2 separate regions of the Homo sapiens genome follow, and region 2 is linked to region 1. Evidence: fine-mapped expression QTL. Tissue or cell type: whole blood. Region 1 holds a variant in brackets; the other region holds the start of a gene. All regions are shown on one strand. Distances are from middle to middle.

Region 1 (2,688 bases):
AAATAAAAACCTGAAACAGTGTGAAACTGCCCTGTTGTGATTTCATTCTCACTGGCATGGGTGGCCCCTATGTCACCAGGGCCCTTTCCACACCATCTTATGAGTTTGGGACTTATTCTCTTTTTAACCCTCCTTCTTTTTTTTTTTTTTTTGGAGACCAAGTCTCACTCTCTCACCCAGGCTGGAGTGCAGTGGCTTGATCCTAGCTCACTGCAACCTCTGCCTCCCAGGTTCAAGCGATTCTCCTGCCTCAGCCTCCCGAGTAGCTGGGATTACAGGAGTGTGCCACCACGCCCAGCTAATTTTGTATATTTAGTAGAGATGGGGTTTCACCATGTTAGCCAGACTGATCAACCCTCCTTCTTCATAGCGTTGGTTGGCAGGTGGGTTGGTCTCTTGTTCGCCTTCAGTACATTGTTAACTTGGTAAAATGGATTAATTTTCTGTCTTGGTGTTGTCTGAAGCACATCTCTGTTTGAGTCTCCTCAATCATGTTCTTTGATCGTTTCCCTCCGACATAGCTATTGGACTTTGGAGGGTACAAATCATTCCCAATGTTTCTTAGGGTCAAGGGCTTCACCTTCCAGTAGATGCCAGGAGCAGGGTGTGCTATAACTAACTGTTTCTGGAGCACAGCGACCCAAAGCTCCAAGGAGGGATGTGCTCCCACTGTCTGTGACTAAGCCTTTCCCATCAACAGTGTTCTTGCTTACTGAGCATGTGCAGCAGAGGCGGAGGAACAATTCCAACCTCAACTCCACCCCCATGTTAAAATTGGGCCATAAATAAGTAGTAGGATGTGCAACCTGGTCCTCTTGTTCACCCGACTTAGGATGAGAAGGAGGAAGTAAATAAAAAGCATATCTCATGGGAGGGGGAAAGGCATTATAAATAAGAAGAGTGTGTGTCCTTGCTATCCCCATCACAGCTTCCTTGGAGATGGGCACAAGTTACTCACACTCTCAGGTCGCTACATCCCCTTGCATACTCTATATTCCTTGGCCACATGTAAGAGATGATCTGGACCTAAAAGAGTGTCCAGACAGATGGAGCTGGAAGTAGACCTGCAAATGGGGCCGAGAGATCCTGACTCAGGGTCAGGGCTACAATCAGACTCATCCTCTCTCTCCTCTACAAACTGCAGACACTTGTTTTGCCTTTTTCTCATCCATAACATTTGCCTTGCCAAGTGCCTCCCTTGGCTTGGATTCTAAAAATGCCAAGTCTTGCTAAGGTGTAGTATCTATCTGAAGAGAAAGGACACTTCCTGGCCAAGTCAAGGTTGAAAGGGGCTTGGACCAAGGCTTGATGGTGGAAGCGGAATTCATGGAGAATCTGGGAGTTCCTTCCGGGGTGGAGCCAACCAGAGGCCAGTCAGCAGAGAAGCCCCACGTTCAGAGCTTTGTGGGGACCGTCTGTGAACAGCTCCAGTCCTACAAAACTGCACTGAGGGCCCTCAGAAAGTTAGAAGAATGACATGTCAAGATTA[C/T]CAAAGAATTCAGATAAAAACCATCTGTTGGTGTGCTGTTATTTTCCTACAACAAACCACGGTGCTTAACCTCATGTCAAAATACTCTGTGGTTTCTGAGTTGCATTATTTTCAGTTTCCCTTCCTCTTGATCCATTTCAGAAGATGTTTAAATTGTCTTCAAGTGATTTTATGTGTATATGTGTTTTAATAGAAGACAATTTATAATGACCAAAAGCTGATTTTTTAATGCCATTATCCTTGTTCTCACAGAAGAAGAACGGAAACTATGAAACACAATAAAGCTTACAGAAGTTGTGAAATAGTTGGCTCCAGCAATTTAATTACCTCTCTATTTATTCCAGAGATTGATTTGGGAATTTGTGACCCTTATTGATTAAATGTACGTTGGAAATAATTCATATAGTGTGTACTCACAGGTAAAGTAAAGCCTTTGGCATTGCCACACGTGAGGAAAATACGACATCGCCAATCTAAGGCTTGAACACATGCACGCTGTTTTCCAAATGGCACAAACACCTTTGTAGATCACTTCTTCCATGAAATAAAGCAAATTGGTCAGGTTTCAATCTTTGAACTCATGAATTTATACCCAGCTGAAAGTACAGGCATCTTAAGAATGTCTTGGTTCTTTCTGTTGTTTTTGAATCTGATAGCTGAAGTTCAAAACTGAAGCTTTCTCAATGTGAAGGTCTATAAACTTTGGTTTCTTCTCCCATCCTCCAGCAAAAAATGAAAGGAATCCATATAATTGGCATTCAAATAATTGTCATCTCTGATAAAACTATAAATAAATACACACTCTTGGAGTCCTCCTTTAGGGTTTACCATCAAAACCATCTAACGTTGCTGTATCAAGTGTGCAGATACTTACAAATATATGGCATTAGTTAACAAAACAGTTTGAAAGATATTGGATGAGGAAATTTTACTTTGGATACAGTACTTTGCAGTGCAGATAAAAACATTTAAGCAGGTAAATTATCAAAGGTAGAGAATATCACTTTGTATAAAGGCAGATCATTTAAATATTTTTCTATTTGTAGGTGGACCATATGCATTTATGGTAAGGATGTGTCTTTCTTTCTTACTGTTTCCCTATGGAACCCAGAAGCAGGCCCAAGGAAAAAGAGCAGGAAGCACTGAAGCAGCAACCACCTGTGTGGTGCCCACACTCAATCTGCACAGAATGGGGCCCT
Region 2 (2,688 bases), 24 kb after region 1:
GGCAACAGGGGAGGGATTCTAATGCCTATTTCATAGTCAGAGAAATTGAGTTTCAGAGGACTTTGATGACAGGCACAAGGCCCCCCCAACTAGTGACTGGGAGAGCCAGCGCTGACAAAGACTCTCCTTAATTCAACTTAATCAGGCTCTACTACACCCCTAGGCTTCGGCCTTTGGCTTCATGTCCATCTTTGCATTGCCCAGTTCAAGCAGGAATCCTGCTAAGTCATTTTATTGATAATCCACTCCTCTTGGTATGTGATCACCCTCAATATCTGATCAAATTCCTCATCTCCCACCATCCACAGGTGAGGTCTGATCACCCTGGCCTGTCTTCAGCAAGAATCCTGTCAGGTCGGTTTAGCCAGAATCCTTTTACCCTTGATGTTTCCTCTTAGTAATTTTCCATCCACTGACCCCCACTCTACTCCTTGGCCAGAAATCTTTACTGGTCTTTGGCTGTATTTGGAATTGAGCCCCTTTCTATACTGAGGTCTCTTTCTGCCGATTGCAATAGTCCTGATAGTATCTTTATCTACTGTCCAAATTTAGTTTTCTTTGACAGCACTCAAGCCCGGGGATTTCCCGTATTTTATTGCTATGAGCCTGCCCACACACTTTCATCCACACAGTCATTAAGACAACACCATATGCTGGAAAAAGCACAAAGTAACTTCAGTAATTCAGTGATTTGTTATGGCTTTAAAGCCAAAATTGTAGGCTGAAGAAATGAGATACATAGAAGCTATGTCCCCAATTCAAACATCTGCTCCTCCTCCCCACAGCACATATTTAATTCTTGTAGGAAGTTGAACAGAGCAAGCGTTGATTAATCTGAAATTGTGACATGCCCCCTTCATTAATGCCAATTGTGAAATATCAGGAAGCACTTTCCCCCAGCAAATAACCTAAGTACAGATTCTTCAATATTGCTCTTGCCAGCTGGTTTCAGTTGTTTCCACAAAGATTACAGATAACACTTTTTAAGGTTCTCTGAGCTGTTCTTACCATTTTTAGTCTTCTTCCAAAATGGAATGTAGAGGTCTGGTTGAAGAGAGCAGAGCATGAGAGGTGCCAAGATCAGCTTGAGATGGGCCCAATAGCATCAACTAAGAGAAAGAGAAGACATCAAAGTTTACATTTCAAAGACAGCACAATACTGTAGCTTAAAGACATGCTAGGATCATTGCTTTAAAATGCGTTTGAAACATCTATTTACAGTATTTACTTCCTCAAAGTTAGGTAGACTGGAGACATATTCCAGAAAACCATTTCTAACGTTACTGAAAGCCTAACTTTATCTTTGAAGAATTGACATTTTAGACTACCACATTTTTTATTTATATTCTAAAAAAAATTTTTGTGCATATGATTTCGGTTCCCTCTTCTCTCCTCCCCACTTCCTTATAACAGCACATACATCTACCTACTTAAATTATCTATATGTGTTCCAATGTTTAAAATACCTTTCTTGATGGCATGGAGTGATCCTATATCTGGAGTCTTCTGAGATGAAGTGATGGGAGGCAGGAAGTGTAGTCACAAAGACTACAGGCAGCCAGCCCTGGAGTTTCCAACTACAAAGATCAGGTCGGGGGATGGGGAGGAGCATGATTATTTAAGCCACCCCAGATATGGGCTTTGCAAAAGCACGGGGTTCCTCTTATTTCTATCACCACTATTGGGGCAACGTCTTGTCTAAATCCAAACAACTCTGTAGACCAAATTTCTTTCGTTTTTATAGCAGGGTTTCTCACCCTCAGCACTATTTACATTTTTGACCAGATAATTCTCTGTTGCACCATAGGATATTTGGTAGCACCCTTGCTCTATACCCACTAGATGCCAATAGCACTGCCCCCTTCCAGTTATGACAATCACAGATGTCTCCAGACATTGCAAATTATCCCCTAAGGGGCAAAAACACCCCGGGTTGAGAACCACTGTTCTATAGATATATTAGAGACATATCTAAATTTACCTTATTCTGTCTTAGACCCAGCTGGAAAGGATGCTGGTTTTTAAGCAGTGGCAAAGCTACCAGTTGGTTCACTCACTTTCCTCTAAAAAAGTTCAGCTGCATTTGCTTCTCAAAGTGTGGGCCCCAAGAGAATTGTTCCTTTCTTAACTGATTATTGGACATTTTGTAGATAGAGCCAAAATATGGTAGTTATGTTTAAAGTTCTTTAATCTACTTAGTCCACCTGGAGAGAATTTGGATGATGTAGAGTGTGGCACGGGGACTTCTGCAGATAATGATCAGGGTTAACATATACTGGGCTGAAAACTCAATGGTGCAATAGAGCAGCTCAAAAACCAGATACAGTAATAAGTGACATTTATTGAGGGTTTTTTATGAGCCAGACACTGTTTTAATGACTTTATATGTATTATCTCATTAAATACTAAAACTATATAAAATAGAGATCTTATTACCCATTTTTTACAAATACTGGAATTTATAACAGAAGAAATATTGGATTTGCCTCAAGTCACATAGCAAGTGATACCCACACAGGCAGTAAAAACCAAATGTCTCCTTATTAAACCACTCTGCTATGCAACGATATGTAAAAATCAATAGTTTTCTCATACATAAATAATTACTGATCCAAATTGGTAATAGAAGAAGAGGTCCCATTCAAATCAGTGAGATCTGAAATGCTTTGGAAGAAAACTGATGGGAAA

What was found. PIP is the estimated chance that this variant, and not a neighbour inherited with it, causes the effect.
Region 2: TLR7 starts here. The variant in region 1 is fine-mapped to the expression of TLR7 in whole blood (TOPMed, PIP above 0.99). The same link has a PIP of 0.9 or more in blood mononuclear cells.

What each region holds. Positions count from the first base shown.
Region 1 is chrX:12,889,465-12,892,152 of GRCh38, reverse strand. TLR7 (toll like receptor 7) reads right to left here. Exons shown (of 3, transcript NM_016562.4): 3 at 1,792-2,688. Among named protein-coding and RNA genes, the nearest start is that of TLR8, 16 kb to the left of the region's middle. The variant C/T (reference allele first, on the strand shown) is at 1,490.
Region 2 is chrX:12,865,902-12,868,589 of GRCh38, reverse strand. TLR7 (toll like receptor 7) reads right to left here and starts at 1,518. Exons shown (of 3, transcript NM_016562.4): 1 at 1,467-1,518; 2 at 1,009-1,109. The coding sequence starts at 1,011. RefSeq lists enhancers at 471-590, 611-680.